Linked DNA regions of Homo sapiens. The protein of the gene in region 3 purifies or fractionates together with the protein of the main gene of each other region. This does not show direct contact. Each region holds a gene or a part of one and is shown on either strand. Other genes may lie near its edges. The genes, in order: TTC1, NUDCD3, NLRP12 and MLF1.

What was found.
Region 1: the proteins of NLRP12 (region 3) and TTC1 purify together in Homo sapiens (affinity purification with a luminescence readout; one large-scale study listed by IntAct). This does not show direct contact.
Region 2: the proteins of NLRP12 (region 3) and NUDCD3 purify together in Homo sapiens (affinity purification with a luminescence readout; one large-scale study listed by IntAct). This does not show direct contact.
Region 4: the proteins of NLRP12 (region 3) and MLF1 purify together in Homo sapiens (affinity purification with a luminescence readout; one large-scale study listed by IntAct). This does not show direct contact.

Annotation. Positions count from the first base shown.
Region 1 is NC_000005.10:160,050,586-160,056,002, forward strand, and holds part of TTC1 (tetratricopeptide repeat protein 1), read left to right. Parts: intron 1-543; coding exon 544-598; intron 599-5,417.
Region 2 is NC_000007.14:44,392,974-44,398,390, forward strand, and holds part of NUDCD3 (nudC domain-containing protein 3), read right to left. Parts: intron 1-5,417.
Region 3 is NC_000019.10:53,802,467-53,807,883, forward strand, and holds part of NLRP12 (NACHT, LRR and PYD domains-containing protein 12), read right to left. Parts: intron 5,203-5,417; coding exon of another isoform or gene 5,200-5,202; coding exon 5,029-5,199; intron 2,985-5,028; coding exon 2,814-2,984; intron 1,657-2,813; coding exon 1,486-1,656; intron 1-1,485. UniProt on the Homo sapiens protein: Plays an essential role as an potent mitigator of inflammation. Primarily expressed in dendritic cells and macrophages, inhibits both canonical and non-canonical NF-kappa-B and ERK activation pathways.
Region 4 is NC_000003.12:158,597,675-158,603,091, forward strand, and holds part of MLF1 (myeloid leukemia factor 1), read left to right. Parts: intron 1-405; coding exon 406-534; intron 535-2,339; coding exon 2,340-2,499; intron 2,500-5,132; coding exon 5,133-5,265; intron 5,266-5,417. UniProt on the Homo sapiens protein: Involved in lineage commitment of primary hemopoietic progenitors by restricting erythroid formation and enhancing myeloid formation.

The DNA.
Region 1 (5,417 bases), on a different chromosome or scaffold from region 3:
GTAGACTTTCTATTAAGAACTGGAAACAGAGCCAAACAAAACTTTTTTTTTTTTTTTTTTTTGAGAAAGGGTCTCTGACTCCCAGGCTGGAGAGCAGTGGCACAGTCATGGCATACTGCACCCTCAACCTCCCAGATTCAAGCAACCCTCCCACCTCAGCCTCCTGAGTAGCTGCGACTACAGACACATGCCAACACACCCAGCTAATTTTTGTATTTCTTGTAGAGACAGCATTTTGCCATGTTGCCCAAGGTGGTCTCAAACTCCTGAGCTCAAGCGATCCTCCCAACTCGGCCTCCAAAAGTGCTGGGAATATGGGCAGGAGTCACTGCACCTGGCCCAAACAGAACTTTTGTCTTTATGTAGCGCACCACAAACATAAATACTTGGGGTTTTTTTTTTTTATTTAATAGGATCATAGACATACTTAACTTGATCTTATTTCCACATTAGGATTCTTGTGTTTCTCAAATTCAAAATAAAGGGAAAGGTTTTGGTTTTTTTTTTTTTTTTACCAACCCTTGTTTCTCCTCTTTTCCTCAGAGATTACCTAAGCAAATTGAAGAACGTAATGAAAGACTAAAAGAAGAGATGTTAGGTAAGCTTACTTCTTACTTTGCTTGATCATAAACAGCTAGGAACCTAGGGTGGGGACATAGCGAATACTAGAGGAGAACACATGAGTTAGAAAGTTTCGGACTCTACCACAAGGCTACTGACTTCTGAGTTATTTTGACCCCAGAAGGGGCAGCGTGGCTTAGAGAGGGTATTGGCTTTTTTTGGAAACCAGATTTCCTTTTTGATTTTCTTGGAAATTTTTCTTGCCTGCAAGAATTTAAGCATAATTCAGTTCCCTGGGATTATGCTTAAATGGGATTTAAAATCCTAGGATACCACCAACCTCGATTTCAGATAACAATTACATAAAAACAGTTTAGTTTCTTCATTGAATAATCATTCCTTGAGGTTCATTAGGATGCAGTCAAGATCATGAGAATTTTTATTTAGAAAATGGCACTCAAAGTCCCTTTAGTGTTTGAGAACACACGAGAGGGCAGGAATTAGGAGTAAAGAGAAATCAGACTGGGGGTAGGGGTAGGGCAAATGGATTCATTTGATCCATGTTTAGTTATTTCTCATATTTGCCAAAGCATTTTAGAGTTGGAACCTCCCACGAGCAATCTGCTTAAGTAAGAGGAGTGAGGGTTCCTGAACACAGACTTAAGTCTTTTCCACATGTAACCTGTCTGATATTTCGCTGGTGAAGATCTGCCATGTATTTTCCTTTTTGAGTATTTTCTAAATCTGTTGTTTGAATTACATTTTATAAACTGCAATCATGTGGCCCTAAAGGAAAAATCATTTAAAATAAATTGAGCCTGTCTGGCATTTATGGCCTTCAGACATCAGCATCCAGACAATGGGAACAAATTTCCCAAAGGATCATTCTGATAGCCAAGTTGATTGAGAGGAGGCCATTAACCTAGACTATCCAGAGACTTTGGCCCCTGCCGGGTAGACTCAGACTGTAAAGACGGCTGCTTCCGATTCAGGATAGCTCTGGAGCCTTCCCCAGATTTTCCAAAAAAGGGAGGGGGATGGGGGAGCTTTTCCCCTAATTTACATATTTAATTAAACTTGGCCAGGCACGGTGGCTCCTGTAATCCCAGCACTTTAGGAGGCCAAGGTAGGAGGATTGCTTGAGCCCAGGAGTTCAAGGCCAGCCTAGGCAACATGGTGAAACCCCATCTCCACAAAAAATTAGTCAGGCATGGTGGCATGTGCCTGCCCATAGTCCCAGCTACATGGGAGGATCACTTGAGCCCAAGGGTTAGAGGCTGCAGTGAGCTATGATGGTGCCACCACACTCCAGACTGGGCAACAGAGCATGACCCTGTCTCAAAGAAGAGGGAAAAGAGCATTTTCTCACCTATTTTTACTAACAATGATGCTCTATTTTAGCAAAAAAAAAAAAAAAAAAAAAAAAAACTGTTTGCATTTAGTATTTGAATTTCTTGCTAAAAAAGATGACCTTGTGAATGGCCATAGTGGATCTGGAAGGCATTGGTCTCTTAGTCCATTTTTTTAAAGCCAGTCCAGTAAAGGGACTGGTGCAAACTGAATCTTACTGCCTATTGTTAGTTCCAGATGGAATTAAAACTTCCATTTGTCCTTGTCTTTATAAATTCTAATGCACCAGAATTTTCTGTCTCCAAGGCTTTGGGTTTTTCTTATGTCATTCTCTTCATTTGAAAAAATTCAAATTGAATTCATTCCCTCGGTTGCTTCTAAAATGAATTCACCTGCCATTAGACTTAACCAACTTAAGTTGCTTTGTAAATAATATGTGTTGTTACACATGTGTAGTTTGAATGGCTAGATTCCTTTTTTCCCTTAATGAGTATAAAAATCATGAATAAGATACTGCTCTAGGTGTTACCCCACAATAGATAACCTAGAAGAGAGAAATCACTCTTTACATGGAATTTCAGCCCCCACAAGAGCTTTTCTGGTATTCCTTCCTCCTTGTTGCTGATGAGGTAACTTTGGTTCATGTTCTGTGAGATTCCCTAGAGGCTAGACATTCTGAATGCAAATTAATATCACTTAGAAGTTCTGAGCAAGCTTTTCACAGTGGACTGCATCATCTTTATGCTAGTTCCTGTTAAAATGATGGCTTCTATGGAGAATAAGCAGTTAAAAATTTTTTAAATTGGGTAGTGTGGGCTGGGTGTGGTGGCTCACACCTGTAATCCCAGCAATTTGGGAGGCTGAGCCCGAGTTCAAGACCAGCCTGGGCAACATGGCAAAATCCTGTCACTAAAAAAATTAGCCAGGTGTGCTGGTGTGCACCTGTAGTCCCAGCTACTTAGGAGGCTGCTGTGGGAGGATCACTTGAGCCCAGGAGATCGAGACTTCAGTGAGCCACAATGATGCCACTGCACTCAAGCCTGGGTGACAGAGTGAGACCTTGTCTTTAAAAAAAAAGAAAATTATAAAATCAGGTAGTGTGATGCCTATGCCTGTAGCTTTTGTTCTTTTTATTCAGGATCACTTTAGCTTTCAGAGTCTTTTGTGGTTCCATACAAATTTTAGGATTTTTCTATTTCTGTGAAGAATGTCATTGGTGTTTTGACAGGGATTACATTGAATCTGTGGATCACCTTGAGTAGTACAAAATGGGTTTTTATTTAGATGTGTTCAGTATTCTTTAACTTGTTTTTTCTTCCATCTCTGTAATTTCCTTTTCATTAGAAAGAAGAGCTATGTACTCCTTGAGGGAAAAAATCCTGATAGGAATTATTAGTGGGTAGAACAATTATTTGCTTTGCCCTTTCTAGCCCATCATTTATAATCTTTAGAACAAGAGACCCAGGGTGGCCATTAGTCCTAGTGGCACAGTCCTTGCTGATCACAGAAGATGATCGTGATAGCATCAAGACGATCACTTGAGGAAAGTGGTCAGCAGCTGGAGTGGGGGTTGGTTGTTTTTGTTTGTTTGTTTGTTTGTTTGGTCCTTTTCTCTGGGATAATTAGCCTCCCAGCCATAATAACCAAGGAATGTAAGGTTTAAAAGGACTTAAGGGTATGTGTGGTTGATAGTGTGATGAGATGGAAATAGAGACCCTGGACATAGCATCCCAGGAGGCTCAGAGCATTTTTGAGGAGCTAGTCATTGATGCTTTATTTGCTTTCTCTCTAATGGAATGATTTCACAGTTTTCTTAAATAGCTGGGAAAAAAGTTGGCTGGGTACAGTAGCTCATGCCTGTAATCCTAACATTTTGGGAGGCCAAGGTGGGAGGATTGCTTGAGCCCAGCAGTTCGAGACCAGCCTGGGCAACATGGCAAGACCCCCATCTCTGCAAAATCTTTAAAAATTAGCCAGGCGTGGTAGCACAAGACTGTGGTCCCAGCTACTTGGGAGGCTGAGGTGGATTGCCTTAGTCCAGGAGGTCAAGTTTGCAGTGTTACGATGGTACCAGCCTGGGCAACAGAGCCAAGACCCTGTCTCAAAAACAAAAAAAGAAAGAAAAAAGAAAAGAAAAATCTCATGTGAAACCACAATATAGAAAAAAAAAAAGTAGCGTTTTATATAAATTCAAATGTACGGTATAGCATTTATAATCAGAATAATCAGGTTAGTTTGAGGAACATAAAGATTTGAAGTCAGGTTTCATATGGCAGACACGGCCTTTATGAGTATATCTAAGCCTTTATGGGTATATTTCATTGTTTCAATTTTACAGTAGTAAATTTTTGCTCACATAGGTAAATAGGAAAAAAAACATTTAAAAGTAAAACTGACGAGACACTTTCAGCTACCCTGAAGCTCCTCTGCTCAACTGTAAGATACTTAGGACAAACTCCCAGGGTTACTGCTCTGCCCTCAGGAGTCCCTTGAGAAGTGTGGCTGTGTCACCTTATGGGAGGAGTGCCTTCCTGGGGGTTGGTTCTTTGCACATGAGTCATTATTTATGGCAGCCATGCTGGGAGGGCAAGAGGTTTGTACTGGGATGATGATACAGGTCTCCAAACAAGCTTTGATTCCAGATAGAAAAGAATATAGGGTAAAGACATCTGTCATCATTTGCAAGTTATTTTATCCCGTATGCTGGCCCAGCCAAGAAGTCTTTCAAGCAAGTGAAATTGTCAATAAAATCTGTATGTATATATTTTTGGTTCTTCCTTGATCTGTCATCTCAGCTTATTGAACTATAAGGTAGCAGATAGAGTCATCTACTTTCTCCAAAAAGTAACCTAGGCTGCATGGGCTACTTTTCACATTGTCTAACGGGGAAGCCCTACCCAGGCAGCTTTAGCCCTCTAATCACTAGAGATGGGTGTTTACAATTCATTTTTTAATATAAGCTCTCTCATCAAGATTCTAATCACCAGTTGCAAAGCAAGTTAACCTTTTGGAGCTGCATCTCAGATATGGTGCCCAGAACATCAGCACCTGAGAACCTGCCAAAACCATGCCAAAAGGCATGATATCAGGCCCTACCCCAGACCTACTGAATCAGAGATTTAAGATGGAGCTCAGCAATCTAAGTTTTAACCTCTCAAGTGTTTCTGATGCACACTCAACTTTAATGACCCTGATGAGTTGAGAGACGGAGTATAGAGGCAGCTCAGGTGAGGGGTTAGAGGCCAGAGGAGGGCATGGCTAAGAGGGGCGTTCAGCTCTGCTCTGAGAGACACCTCCTGAGCAAAAGCAGCCATGGCACTGAGTTTTATCTTTTCTTCTTTGTGTTGTAGCTGCAGCAGAGAAAAACTAGAAAGCAAATATTTCAGAATGTGTGGTCTTCCAATTCACTAGAGTTCAGATCTCAGCTCTCTATTTGGACAAGTTGCCACTGGAGGAATAGAGTCAGTTACATTACTACTTACTGGGTGTGCAGGGGATAACAAGCT
Region 2 (5,417 bases), on a different chromosome or scaffold from region 3:
AACATCCAACATTCTGCTATCTTAGGGGTAAGCTGGGACCTATGAGACTTAGGGCTCAGCCTAATGCATGACAGAATCTCCTGGGGAGTCCTCACCCCATGACAGGGCACCATGCCCTGTCCCCACTTCTTCCTCACTGGGGCCAAGCTTGCTGCATGAGGGGGTCCTCCAGCCCCATTCCCTAAAGTTCTCTGATGGCTTGGGAAGGAGAAACGACCATCAAGAAACAACCCCAAAAGAGGCCTCCTTGGGCACCTCTGTGGGGATGGCACAGACATCCCTTGGTCAAAGGAAGCAGCACCCAGCATTTAAGATCCAGCCCTCAGTGTTGGGGTCTGTGAGACTCATGTCATTACCATAAAAACTTAAAAGACAACTGGAACTGCAGTATGAGAGCAAACGTGAGGGGTGCTGTATGTACCTAGGTGACCCTGGCTGCTTGGCCTGTCCCAGGGACACAGAGGAGGGCCCTGGCCACACCATGCCCTGTTATCAGTGGTCATACAGACACAGAAAACAAGAAAACTGGCTGCATCTGCTGTGGTCAGTGGCTGGGCTCAAAATTCTTACCAGAGTGGCCAAGAAGCAACAGAGTGGGTTTGTCTACTTTGCCCTAGATGAGCACTGCACTTTTTCAACAGAAATACTTGATCTGTGTTTAGATTTCATAATATTTACAATTGAAAGAGGTACATTCACATGCCCAAGTGTGATGGGACTCTCTGATGGGATTAAACCACTAGGTGCTCACAGAAAGGGAGAAAAGGTAGCAAAGGGCCCGCAAGTGAGAGCAGCTCTCATCCATGGAGGTGGCAGCCACCAGGACACTTACTGACCAGGTGGGCAAAACCTACCAAGCCACACTCAGGGTAACTGTGACACTCAAGAGGTCACAGTGAGTCCACAGGACACCACGTCCCCCCAAGAGGGAGCACTGGAGACTCACCAGTATACACGGGCTTGAGAGAGCAGTGTCCTAACACTGCACCTTCCACCTTCCCACCTCCAAGCTCCTGCTGCCAAAACCTACCCACACCAAAGAAGGTACTCAGCACCAGACTCTGCAGAGCCCAGGGATCAAGTCCGAGAATGTGTTCTACTAATGAAGAGGGTGGGCACCGATGTGGTGCGGGAGAGCACACAGTGGAGATTTTCCAGAACTGGGAAGAGCAAGACAAAAACCTGCAATCATGATCTGAAGCCAGCATCCCAGAAATCTTGTCTGACATTCCGAATGCAGATAGGGGGAGTGGTGAACAGGGGGAGTGGGTGGCTCCCCTACACGCCAGCTCTACCCAGTAAATGACGCTGCTCTGCCAGTGTGCAATTTAAATTTGGGATGAATCTTCCATTTCCAGATACTCTGCTAAGCTGGTTTGTCGTTGACTTTACAGTTTGTGTGACGGGGACCTGACTCACCCTCAGAGACCCCAACACTACAAACTCTACCTCGTCTTTACCAAGCTGATGCAATGAAAACCTTCCAAGAGGGAAATGCATTGTTTTCTCTATTCCAGGGAAGACTTCAGAGGAACTCACAGAACTGTAAATCTCTGGAAAGAAGAGATCCTTTACGAATTTTTTATCTTCACCAGTAGTTATTACTGTGATCCATGTAACTTATTTTATTAGCGTTCACAAGTCCTGTAAAACACATACCATTACCATTTACCATACATACCATTTTTTGTATTTAAAAATGAGGACAAACCCTTGGAAGTAAGGGCCTTTTCCAGATTGCCCAGCATGAAGAGGCAAAGCAGAGCTACACTGGGGCTGACAGCCCACCATCAGCACCATGTGGGCAGGGGGTCGGCCTACATACCATCCAGGGGACGGTGCTGGTGCTCTCAGGCCTTTTGGCACTCCACAGACCCCAACACAGGGTTTCACTGGCCAGGTCCAAACACACACCCAGAGTGGAGGGCTCCTGGGCACAGTGGGAGATGGACCTGAAGACAATGAGCCACCTGCCCAACAGGAAGGAGGGGAACATCCCCAAATCTTCTGTGTCCACAAGTGTACTTTGGACACAGAAGTACACTTGAACCCAACAAAAATTAAGATGAGCACTGCACTTTTTCATCAGAAATACTTCATCTGTGTTCAGATTTCATAATATTTACAATTGAAAGGGTATATTCACATGCCCAAGTTGTTTCAAAAATATTCAAGGTTTTCCAGTAACTAAATCAAGTAGGTTTTAAATTTAAGTTAATTAAAATAAAATAATTCAGTTCTCCAGTCACGTGAGCCACCTGTCAAGTGTTTACTCAGCTGCCACATGTGGCTAGCAGCTACTGTGCTGGGCAGTGCAGCTCTCCAAGGGGGCCATCCTCACTCACAGACGTCACGCATGTGCATCAGTGTGGTATTTTATGAGGAGATGTGAGCCGACTTTATATTGAACAATTTCTAATGGAGGCAAAATCCACTTAACACAAAACTTACCATTCAAAAGTGAACCAATGGCATGTAGTATATCCACAATGGTGCACAACCATCACCTTTATCTAGTTTCAAAACACTTTCATTACCTCACAAAGAAGCCCTGTGCCAATTATCAGTCACTCCCCATTTGCTCTAACCCTTCCTCTAAATTGTTCCCTCAACCCCACCAAGCCACTGGCAACTACTAATGATTCTGCCTCTACAGATTTGCCGGTTCTGGACATTTCACACAAATGGAATAATACAGTTATCTGTTTGTTTTTGTCTGGCTTATTTCACTTGGCATAATGTCCTCCTCAATGTTCATCTATGTTGTAGCATGAATCAGAACTCCATTCCTTTTTAAGGTTGAATAATATTCCACTGTATGGATAAACCACATTTTGTTTCATCAACTGATGGACATTTCAGGTGCCCCCACTTTTTGGCTGTTGTGAATAATGCTGCTATGAACATTGATGTACATACATCTGTTTGAGTCCCTGTTTTCAATTCTTCTGTATATTTACCCAGAAGTGCTGGGTCATATGGTAATTCTACAGTTAACTTTTTGAGGAACTACCATACTATTTTCGAAAGCAGCTGCACCACTTTACCTTCCCACCAGCGGCATACAATGGCTCCAGTTTCTCCATACCCTCACCAACACTTGTTATCTTCTGTTGTGTGTGTGTGTGTGTGTGTGTGTGTGTGTGTGTGTGTTTAATTACAGCCATCCCACAGGTGTGGCTAGCACCACTGGTCCTTTGTCCTGACCATATACACACAGGCCTGCCTCCTCTGCCTTCCAGACCTGCTCCAGTCAAGTTTCCATCTGTCATCACTGTAACCAAGTGGGCTGCCCTCCATGCTGGGGCAGCAAACAGGACCTGAGGTGTTGTCTATAAAGGTTCTTGTAAAGGCTCTGGAAGAGGAAGGTCTCAGTTGCAAAATTTTAATTATTTATTTATTTAGTACCCTTAGAATATCTTCTATTTTTAAGGATGAGCATATTAGTAAAAACAATATGAACAATATTATTAGCATGATAATTATTCTAAACAAGGGCATTCTAACATCGTTATTGACTTGCCTGGAGTCCCTCTCCACACTGTTCCTTTACAGAATTCCATCTCTCACTCTGAGCTGCAGATCCCCATTCCTTTCTCCTTCCCAAACTCCAGACCTTTTTTTTTAATGGCCCACGCCTCGTAAGTCATTGAGCTGACAAGCTTCTTTATGCTCTGAACATTCTCATGTTCTATAAACTGGTTTAATGTGTAAATGTTTCTGCTGTCACTGTCCACATTTAACTACTTTCCTTAGAGTAATGCTTCTGGGAGGCCTCAGATATGACTTCTGGTAGTTAACCTTAAAAACCACTGAATGGTACAGAGCATACAGGTCTTGCAGGGCTGTCTTCCGACACCCAGTGCAAGATGCAGTTCTGGGAGGACATGGGTACAATGTTCCTAGGATGGAGTTCAAAGACCTCTATCTAAAAATAACACCTCTGATAAAGTAGTCTGATGGTTTTACATTTGTTTTTGTTTTTTTCTGTGAATATTTTATTTTTTTAAAGTCAAGTTTGTGGAGGTATAGTATGCACATAGTAAAAATCACTCTTTTGAGGTCACATCTCCATGAGCTACTGCTACAATCAACCCACATCCCAGCAGCCCCGTTCCCCTTCTCAGCAGTCCTCTCAGCCCGATGCTCGTTTTGCCATCCAGCATGTCCGTGTCCAGAATGTCACATGTGTGGAATCACACAGTGTGCAGCCCTGTATCTGCTGCCTCCTTTGAGTGTGGGGACTCTTGACGCTCAGCCACACTGTGCTTCATGGCACAGGCAGACCACACACTTGTTTGTGGACATGTGGGCATTTCCATTGTTTTGCAATCAGGTAGAGAGCTGCTGTAGAGATCTGCCTGCTTTCTATTCTCCTTGGTAAGTAGCCAGGAATGCGTGTGTTGGGTCACGTGATGTCAGCTACTGTCCAGACTGACCACTCTGCTGCACCCCTACCAGTAGCACAGAAGAGCACCAGGTGCCCCATCTCATTTAGCGCTTGGTGCTGTCTGCCTTCTTAGCAGCTCTTCTAAGAGGTGTCTAGGGGCATCTCATCATGGTTTTGCCTTGCATTCCCCTAATGAATCATGACGTTAAGCTTCTCATGTGCTTATTAGCCTTCTCATTTTTTTTAACATTTTATTTGTAAAGAATTTTAAGCTTAAAGTTACTAGAATAAGTACAAAGACACCCATACAAGTGTTTAGCAGCTGTGTGTCTGTACACAGCTCTCTCACTCTATATGTATGCTGTATGTATAATATATAATAACATAGTATTTTCTCTGAATCATTTAAGAATAGGTTGCATTCATCTTGGCCCTTTGTCCTGAGTTATTTCCTAAGGACAAGGAAATAACTTATGATGATTTACGGAACAGGGTCCAGTCCAGAGTCCTTCCTGCATCTTGGGGGTCCTGTCCTCTTTAATCTAGGACATTTCCACAGCCTTTTTCCTCCCCTGACATCTCCTGATTAACTCATGTGTGCACACCCAGCTGGACACACATGTGTTCCACCTGCAGGCACACAACATCCACAGCCCTCAGTGGGTGGGGTGTTCACTCAGGTTACCTGGCCAAAGGGAGGTCTGACTTCTCCACTGTAGTTATTGACTTGCAAACTCTCCTCTCCAGAACCCCTGCATCCCTGCTCCACCCTGCCCCGCATAGCATCTGCCGGTCCCATCTGTCCCACGAAGGCTGGGAAATGCTGACTTTCTTGCCCTAGTCCCTCCACACTGACTGATGGCTTATGCATCTTATTGAAGCAAGCACCTTCTCTTCTGCAATGAAATTATCTATCTATTGCTGTCAGTACTGACCCCTGGATTCCTGGCCTCTCTGGTCTCTCAATGGCTTATAACTCATTACCATGCTTAATTATGTTGGTGTGAAACAATCCCAGACAAGGTTG
Region 3 (5,417 bases):
GGGGGCTGAGGCGGGCGGGTCACGAGGTCAGGAGATCGAGACCATCCTGGCTAACACGGTGAAACCCCGTCTCTACTAAAAATACAAAAAATTAGCCAAGCGTGGTGGCAGGCGCCTGTAGTCCCAGCTACTAGGGAGGTCGAGGCAGGAGAATGGTGTGAACCCGGGAGGCGGAGCTTGCAGTGAGCAGAGATCACACCACTGCACTCCAGCCTGGGCGACAGAGCAAGACTCTGTCTCAAAAAAAAAAAAGAAAACTGGGGAAGATGGTACATTTTATGTTGCATGTATTTTACCACAATTAAATTTACTTTTTATTTTATTAGGGACAGGGTCTCACCCTGTCACCCAGTCTGGGGTACAGTGGCTTGATCACAGCTCACTGCAGCCTTGGCCTCCGAGGCTCCTGAATAGCTGGGACTCCAGACACATACCACCCACCCCAGCTAATTATGTTTATTTTTTGTAGAGATGAAGTCTCACTGGTTCCCAGGCTGCTCTTGAGCTCCTGCACTCAAGCCATTCTCCTGCCTTGGCCTTCCAGAGGGTTGTGATTACAGCTGTGAGCCACCGCGCCCTGCCCTTCTGAATATTTTTGATCCATGGTTGATGAAATTCACGAATGCAGAACCCGTGGACACAGAGGGCTGACTGTGGCTCAGTGGCATGAAGTAGTTTCACGCTACTGGGAAATCATCACTGCTATCCATCTCTGGAACTTTTTTTTTTTTTGAGACGGAGTTTCGTTTTTGTTGTCCAGGCTGGAGTGCAATGACACAGTGTTGGCTCACCACAACCTCCGCCTCCCAAGTTCAAGTGATTCTCCTGCCTCAGCCTCCCGAGTAGTTGGGATTATAGGCATGTGCCACCACGCCTGGCTAATTTTGTATTTTAGTAGAGACGGGGCTTCTCCATGTTGGTCAGGCTGGTCTCGAACTCCAGACCTCAGGTGATCTGCCCACCTCGGCCTCCCAAAGTGCTGGGATTACAGGCGTGAACTACCGCACCCGGCCCATCTCTGGAACTTTTTCATCTTCCGAAATGGAACCTCTGCTCCCGTTAAACGGTAACTCCCCATTTCTTCCTGTTCTAGGCCTTGGCAGCCACTATTCTACTTTGTTTTTTGAGATGGAGTCTCACTCTGTCACCGTGGCTGGAGTGCAGTGACGTGATCTCAGCTCACTGCAACTTCCGCCTCTCAGGTTCAAGTGATCCTCCTGCCTCAGCCCCCTGAGTAGCTGTGATTACAGGCGTGTGCCACCACATCCAGCTAATTTTTGTATCTTTAGTAGAGAGGGGGTTTCACCGTGTTGGCCAGGCTGGTCTCGAACTCCTGACCTCAGATGATCTGCCCTCTTTGGCCTCCCAAAGTGCCGGGATTACAGGCGTGAGCCACTGCGCCCGACCTGTGGATGCATTTTTATACCATCATTCAATATGAAGAGATTTGCCATTTTATTATAGTTGACCCCAGGAAGAACTCACCACAAAGTCCGTAGTCTGCAGACTGGGTGCCTCAGTCCCTGGCATAGTAACCTCAGGCCCAAATCCTCCAGTGCATTTCCTGTCAGGTCCAACTCAACCAGATGTGGGTTGGTGCCGAGCACAGAAGCCATCTCCTGACAAGCCCCGGACTCCAGCTGACACTTCCTCAACCTTGGGAGGAAGGAGAGGTTGAAGGGGACGCCATCTTGCTTTTCTATGTCGTGATCACTCATGCTCCAGCCTGTTATTTTATTATTTAGGAACAGGTTGTTGCTCTGTCACCCAGGGTGAAGTTCAGTGGAGTGATATCAACTCGCTGAAGCCTCGACCTCCAGGCTCCCGTGATCCTCCTGCCTCAGCCTCCTGAGTAACTGGGAATACATGTGTGCACCACCACACCTGCCTAATTTTTTTTGTTTGTTTGTTTTTTGTTTTTTTTGGGTTTTTTTGTTTTTTTTTTTTTTTGAGGTAGAACCTCATTCTGTCACCCAGGCTGGAGTACAGTGGCGTGATCTTGCCTCACCGCAACCTCCACCTCCTGGGTTCAAGTGATTTTCATACCTCAGTCTCGAGTAGCTGGGACTACAGGCTGGGCTACAGGTGTGTGCCACCACGCCCAGCTAAGTTTTGCATTTTTAGTAGAGACGGGGTGTTTCTCCGTGTTGGCCAGGCTGGTCTCGAACTCCTGACCTCAGGTGATCCGCCTGCCTTGGCCTCCCAAAGTGCTGGGATTATAGACGTGAACCACCGCTCCTGGCCCATACCTGGCTAATTAAAAAAAAAAAATTTTTGTAGGTCGAGTGCAGTGGCTCACACCTGTAATTCCAGCACTTTGGGAGGCCAAGGTGGGTGGATCATTTGAGGTCAGGAGTTCAAGACCAGCCTGGCCAACGTGAGGAAACCCCATCTCTACTAAAAATACAAAAAAGTTAGCTGGGTGTGGTGGTGGGTGCCTGTAATCCCAGCTACTTGGGAGCCTGAGGCAGGAGAATCACTTGAACGCAGGAAGTGGGGGTTGCAGTGAGCCGAGATTGTGCCACTGCACCCCAACTTGGGCAACATAGCAAGACCCCGTCTCGGGAGAAAAAAAGAAGAGGTGGGGGATGGCCCCAGGGACTCTTCATCATGTAGAATTGAGTGTGGAGTCAGAGGAGGGCAGAAGCAGGTCTTCCAAAGTGCCTAGAGTCCAGGGCCAGGGTCTTAGGTCATGGGGTTAAGGGCCAGCCCTGATTTAAAGGTGGAGATTTGGGGATTACCAGCATTTTGTGATATTTCATGCCCCAGGAGACAATGAGCTTAAGAAGTTGCTCCCGGGGATAGAGACTCACTGAATCATCTGCAGCCTGCACTGGGGATGCCGCAGGCCCTCGCAAAGCAGCATCATGCCTGGGAATCCAACGCCGTTGCCACTGAGATCCATCCTTGTCAAATTCTTATTGGCTATGAGAGCTGCAGAGAGGTCCTCGCAGGCTGAGCTGGAGATGCGGCACCTCTTCAGCCTGGGGTGGAAAAGAGGAGAAAGGAGCTGGTCATTTCTTTTGCTCCAGTTTTGTGGATTATTTTCTTTTGCTTTTTTTTTTTTTTCTGAGACAGAGTCGCTCTGTCACCCAGGCTGGAGAGCAGTGGCATGATTTTGGCTTACCACAACCTCTGCCTCCTGGGTTGAAGCAATCCTCCTGCCTTGGCCTCCTGAGTAGCTGGGCTTACAGACGTGTGCCACCATGCCTGGCTCATTTTGGTATTTTTAGTAGAGATGGGGTTTCACCATGTTGGCCAGGCTGGTCTTGAACTCCTGGGTCAAGTGATCCTCCCCATCTGGGCCTCCCAAAGTGCTGGAATTACAGGCGTGAGCCATCATACCTGGCCAATATATTTATTTCAAAATATCATGTTATATATGATAAATTTTACCTGTCAAGAAAAGCAACAAGAACAATATAAAATGTTTTGATGCTTTGTAGTCAAATACATTCACAAAGGTTGCCCTTAAAGAAATTCAAGGCCATGTGCGGTGGCTCAAGCCTGTAATCTCAGCACTTTGGGAGGCCGAGGTGGGTGGATCACCTGAGGTCAGGAGTTTATGACCAGCCTGGCCAACACAGTGAAACCCCATTTCTACTATAAACACAAAAATTAGCTGGGTGTGGTGATGCACCCCTGTAATCCCAGCTAATCAGGAGGCTGAGGCAGGAGAATTGCTTGAACTCAGGAGGCGGAGGTTGCAGTGAGTCGAGATCATGTCACTGCACTCCAGCCCAGGCTACAGAGCAATACTATCTCAAAAAATAACATATGAAAAAAATTTGGCTAGGCACAGTGGCTCACACCTGTAATCTCAACAGTTAGGGAGGCTGAGGAAGGAGGATCACTTGAGGCCAGAAGTTTGAGACCAGTATGGGCAGCATGGTGAAACCCCATCTCTCCAAAACATACAAAAATTAGCCTGGTGTGGCTGGGCACGGTGGCTCAGTCTGTAATCCCAGCACTTTGGGAGGCCGAGGTGGGTGGATCACGAGGTTAGAGATTGAGACCATCCTGGCTAATATGGTGAAACCCCGTCTCTACTAAAAATACAAAAAATTAGCTGGGCATGGTGGCACCTGCCTGTAGTCCCAGCTACTCAGGAGGCCGAGGCAGGAGAATCGCTTGAACCCAGGAGGCAGAGGTTGCAGTGAGCCGAGATCACGCTACTGCACTCCAGCCTGGTGACAAAGCAAGACTCCGTCTCAAAAAAAAAAAAAAAAAAAAAAAAAGAAATTAGCCGGGTGTGGTTGCACATGCTTGTTTTCCCAGCTACTCGTGATGCTGGAGCAAGAGGATCGCTTGAGTCCAGGAGTTTGGGGCTGCAGTGAGCCATGATTGTGCCACTGCACTCCAGCCTGGGTGACAGAGCATATCAGTGTCTCAAAAATTTAAAAAAAAAAAAAGTAAAAAAAAGAAAAAAATTTGGAGACCCACACAGCAGGATGACCATGTGAAGACAGAAGGCAGTGATCTGCAGGCCCAGGACAGAGGCCTCAGAAGAACTTAACCTGCCCACTCCTTGTCTTGGACTTCCAGCAGCCCCCCACCTGCCTTGAGAAAATAGATTTATGTGGTGAAGCCACCCAGTCTTTGGCACTTTTTTCCCCCCTGAGATGGAGTCTCACCGTATCACCCAGGCTGGAGTGCAGTGGCACAATCCCGGCTCACTGCAACCTCCGCCTCCCAGGTTCAAGCGATTCTCCTGCCTCAGCCTCCCAAGCAGCTGGGATTACAGGCGCCCGCCACCACACCCTCCTGATTTTTGTATTTTTTGTAGAGATGGCATTTTGCCATGTTGGCCAGGCTGGTCTCAAACTCCTGACCTCAAGTGATCTGCCCGCCTTCACCTGTCAACATACTGGGATTACAGACGTGAGCCACGGCACCTGGCTTTGTGACACTTTTTTATGGCAGCCGTAGCCAACGAATACACCATCCCGTGATAGAACCTTTGTGACTGATCCCCATGAGAGGCCACGGTGGGGACCACCTGAAACGCCCAGACCAGCCTGCACTCACCTCAGGTTCTGAAGTTTGCAGTTGGGGTGTCTGAGTCCTTGACAGAGCAGCTTCACCCCCCGGCTGCCCAGGGCATTTCGGTACAGAGACAGCTCTATCAGGTTTGGATTGGTGCACAGGGCCGCTGCCAGATGTTCACTGTAGGCGTCCAGCAGAACGGTCCTCTCTGGTCTGCTTGAAGGAAAGACAGGCCACTCTCTGGTGTTACTGGTGCTTGACAACTATGGCCTTTGCATGTCATTTCACCGTTTATGAAGCATGCTATCCTTTTTTGAGACGGAGTTTCGCTCTTGTTGCCCAGGCTGGAGTGCAATGGCGCAATCTCAGCTCACCACAACCTCCGCCTCCTGGGTTCAAGCGATTCTCCTGCCTCAGCCTCCAGAGTAGCT
Region 4 (5,417 bases), on a different chromosome or scaffold from region 3:
CTAATTGATTGGCTTAATGTTGGCAAGATTACACACAAGGGTCAACCACTGACTATAGAAGTATCACAGGTTTGGGGGCATAGCATCTTTATTGAAATCTAAGCCACGAGCACCCAAAGACTTAAGGATCTCTGAGTGAGTCACTTATTAGTCTTTGTAACGAGAGTGGGATAATTGTACCTAAAATGGACGACCGTTAGGACCCTCTAGGGGTGACTTTTTTTGGGCGGAGGTAATTTTTCAAGTCACTTCTCACTTGAGAACCTGGGTGTGCCTTTGACTACACCATATTGGTAGTTTAGTATCCTTAGTAGAACTTACAGCTAGTGTTGTTACTTATTTGAACTCTCTGGCAATAATTATTTATATTTGACTCGACTGAATTTACAATTTGTTTACCTGTAGGGTCAACTTTCAGTGGATCCAAATGGACATTCATTTTGTTCTTCCTCAGTTATGACTTATTCCAAAATAGGAGATGAACCGCCAAAGGTTTTTCAGGCCTCAACTCAAACTCGTCGAGCTCCAGGAGGAGTAAGTTTTCTATAAGCATTCCTAAAGTTTTATAAAGTTAGGGGATGATAGACTGTCTAGATCAAATTTTAACTATTAAAATTTAATCTGGTACAAGATGGTGGGGGGACAGGAGGGAGGTGTGGGGGTTGGGGGTAAGGTAGTCCTCACTGTGGAAACCATTAAAGCTCAACTGTATTTACTTAGTTTGTGGCATTTTTTTTGTAGCCCCCCCACCCCCCCGTGAGGGTGCCTTTTTTCATGTAAATATCTATGGATGTTTATTACCTTTACATGTTGACAAGGTAAACAAAACACGAAAAGAAGCCTTTGTTTCATGAAATTAATGTCTATTTTTAAGTTTACATTTGAAGTGAATTAATTTTTTAACTCATGAAATATTTCAAGTGTACAGAAAGGATATAGAGAATAACATAATAAGTGCCCATATTCCTGCCACCCAGTTTAGTCATATCATAACATTTTTCTCTATTTGCTTCAAGTTGTCTCTTGCTTTGTTTTCTTTTTAAGCGAAAATGTACAGAGGCAGTTAAACCTTCTAATACATTCCTCTGAGGTCTATTTTCCCTTTCTCCCCTTCTCAGAGATTACCATTTTCCTGTATCTGGAGTTTATCATTTTCACGCATGTTTTTACAATTTTATTACTTCACGTTTCTGTCATTAAAAAAATGGATTATTTTCCAGATTTCCCAACATTACATAAAGGGTATCATATTGCATATGTCCTCTGCAACTTGTCTTTGCTGAGTAATATGCTTCTGAGATTTATTCAGCTTGATACATGTGGCCCTGGTTTCTTTAACTTCTATGTAGTATCCAAAATATGAATATATTATGATTAATACGCTTCTGAGATTTATTCAAGTTGATACATGTGGCCCTGGTTTCTTTAACTTCTATGTAATATCCAAAATATGAATGTACCATGATTTTTAAATCATTTTCTGTCAATAGATATGTAGGTGAGTCTAATCTTTCACTAATTCATCTTTATACATGGCTCCTTATACAGAGTCTAGGAGTGGTATTGCTGAGTTGTAGGGTATGTGTACTTTCCTCTTTACCTAGCGTTTCCAAGCTACTATCCCAGTGATTGAAATTGTTGGCTTCCAAAACTGTGGCTTGTGAGTTTCCATTTCTCTACTTCCTTGTTAGTACTTATAGTAAAAATTTAGGTTTACCAATCTAATGAATGTGAAGTAGTACATTTTTTAGTTCTTACATATAAAGATGAACCTTTTAATGATGCTTTTGCCATAGTTCTGCTAATTAATCTCAGACATTTTAATTTTAACTTTCTAAAAGTGACAAACTTAAATGTAAACAGAATATAATTGTAGATGTCCCACAGTAAATCATGTTAGTTGCTATCAGAAATATTCTTATAATACTTCCATAGAGTTGATAGTCGGGAATCATGAGATTCAAGCCAATCAATATGACTGATGAATAATTAGTTGCCCTTATTTGTAGGAATCCCACCATAAACTTCCTTCTATTACATTATCTAAGACAGTCTTGAAGGCATTAAACTATAATTGCTACTTTTGTTTTAATATTTGATTACAATTTGGAAAAAGGTTAAATTGTATGGGTTCTGTTTGTTGTAGACATTTTCATTTTAAGGAGTTCAGGAAATATCAGAGACTTATTACCACAGTTTTACCACAAGTTAATAGTGGAACTGAGCACACATTATTTTTAGAGCAATAGATCTATGGCCATATCTCTGTAGGTAAGCTGGCCCTGAGATATACATTCTATATATATTTAAATAATAATAAAATTTCTTTATTTTTACAGATAAAGGAAACCAGGAAAGCAATGAGAGATTCTGACAGTGGACTAGAAAAAATGGCTATTGGTCATCATATCCATGACCGAGCTCATGTCATTAAAAAGTCAAAGAACAAGAAGACTGGAGATGAAGAGGTCAACCAGGAGTTCATCAATATGAATGAAAGTAAGTTATCACAAAAAAATAATATTCTTTCTTATAAATTTAAAATAACAGCCGTACTTGATGAATTTTTTTTTAGAAACATGTCATAAGATGTAGTTTTTGAATAATGCATGTAGAGAATACCTTGTGAAAGTAATAGGATTGTGTTTTCATCCTTTCATAGGAGAGCTCTTTTTTATAGTGATTTTTGGCAATATGGGATATTACTTATTTTTATTTTATCCTTGGAAAGTGGAATCTTTTGAATTGTTATTTAGTAATATCATTAGGCAAAATGTGTCTTTAAATATTTTTTCTGATTATCAAGAAAGTACATTTGAAAAGTATAAAGACAAAAATAATCCATAATCCAAACTCAAAATACTAGTAATATTTTAATGTATTTCTTCCTAATCATTTTATATATATAAACACTTTTTTCTCAAATTATTATTCTACTTTTATATAGTTTATATTGTGCTTATTTTAATTTACCATTATAATTGTAAAGTTACTTATGATGCTATTTTTCAAAAGCATTTTAAGTGGTTACCTTAAAGTTTTATTGTAAATAAGCCATAATTTTTACTTAAATCATTCTGTACTGTTCAGTAGTACTTAGGCTTTTGTATAGACAAGATTTTAATTTCTGTTATATGTTAGATTACATGTATGTCTCTCTCTCTCAAGTAAATCTTTTCTTTTTCTGGATTTTGTATTTATTCTTCAATGCATTTACATCCTTCTAGTGTCCTAACTCTTCTCCCTGTAGTTTTTAATTATATTACAATTTATTAACAAATTTAATCATTAAATTTAAATTATTTTTATTAATTTTTAAATCAATATTAAGCTTTTATATTTAATTGTATTAATTCAATAATGAAATTATATTAAAATTTAGTTGGATTCATCTCCTAGTTTCAGAAAGTATTTTGAATAATGTTTTTCCATAATAGAGTGTTTAAATTTTAAATTGTTGTATTAAAAAAGAAATTCTGGCCGGGCACGGTGGCTCATGCCTGTAATCCCAGCACTTTGAGAGGCCGAGGCAGGTAGATCATGGGGTCATAAGTTCGAGACCAGCCTGGCCAACATGGTGAAACCCCATCTCTACTAAAAATACAAAAATCAGGGCCCGGCACAGTGACTCACGCCTGTAATCCTGGCACTTTGGGAGGCCAAGGCGGGCAGATCACGAGGTCAGGAGTTCAAGACCAGCCTGACCAACATGGTGAAACCCCGTCTCTACTAAAAATACAAAAATTAGCCGGGCATGGTGGTGCACGTGCCTGTAATCCCAGCTACTCGTGGGGCTGAAGCAGGAGAATCGCTTGAACCCAGGAGGCGGAGGTTGCAGTGAGCCAAGATCGAGCCCTTGCACTCCAGCCTGGGCGACAGAGCGAGACTCTGTCTCAAAAAAATAAATAAATAAAATAAATAAAAATACAAAAATCAGCTGGGCATGGTGGCCCGCGCCTGTAATCCCAGCTACTTGGGAGGCTGAGACAGGAGAATCTCTTGAACCCGGAAGGCAGAGGTTGCAGTGAGCCAAGATCACGCATTGCACTCCAGCCTGGGCAAAAGAGCAAGACTGTGTTGGGTGGAGGGGAGGAAGAAATTCTATTAACATTGGGGTTTGATAAAATTATTCTTTTTTTTTTTTTTTTTTTTGAGACGGAGTCTCGCTCTGTTGTCCAGGCTGGAGTGCAGTGGTGCAGTGGTGTGATCTCGGCTCACTGCAAGCTCCGCCTCCCAGGTTCACGCCATTCTCCTGCCACAGCCTCCTGAGTAGCTGGGACTACAGGTGCCCGCCACCATGCCTGGCTAATTTTTTCTATTTTTAGTAGAGACGTGGTTTCACCATGTTAGCCAGGATGGTCTTGATCTCCTGACCTTGTGATCCGCCCACCTCAGCCTCCCAAAGTGCCGGGATTACAGGCGTGAGCCACCACACCTGGCTGGGGTTTGATAAAATTATTCTTATGCAGTAAGATAGAAGCCATGATATTGTGACCTGTGTTTATTTGTAACCTCTGTAATTTTATCACATTTATATATATACTGAGTATTTCACAATAATCAACATTTTGATGAAAAATTGAGTGAAGGAACATAATATTTTAAAGCAGTCTTAAGAAGTACTATCATGTCTCTATTGTTGCTATTATGGAAGTTAGATTACTTCATAACAACATGAATTGACATTCTAGCTGAGTAACCTGTCTTAGGAAATTGACAACAGAAACTTGTGAGGTCAAGTTACACAGAAAGATGGTTAGGTGAATAGAAGTGCTAGCCACAGAAGTATACACTATACAGGAAGAGTATATTCACTGTGAGATGACCCAGGAAGAAAAACTGTTAGTTAATATAATTAGGTCAGCTGGTCCATTGGGTAGAATAATATGTTATCCAGGCAGTTGAAAAAATAGATCATCAATAACTAGATCATCAGTAGGAATAGGAGAGGAACAGACAGGAAAACAAATACTACTTTTGTCAAAGACCCTTATATTTGAAGCAGCTTCCTGCCTCTGTATTGAGGTTACACTAATGAAAACACCAGACTAGACTGAAATATGTGGGAGCAAGGCAGTTACTGACAGTTGATACCTTAATACTTATTCCCATTATTTTTCTGTTTGACATAGGTGATGCTCATGCTTTTGATGAGGAGTGGCAAAGTGAGGTTTTGAAGTACAAACCAGGACGACACAATCTAGGAAACACTAGAATGAGAAGTGTTGGCCATGAGAATCCTGGCTCCCGAGAACTTAAAAGAAGGTAAAAGTTGTTTCTAAAATAGTTTGGTTTTTTAAGAAGAATTTGAAGTAAAGTTATGTAATTTACTTCTGTTATCAGAAAGTTTTGATGATCATCCAAATTGTATCCACAGTATCTTTTGTGAAAGATGTAATAATTTTATATGAAAGCTG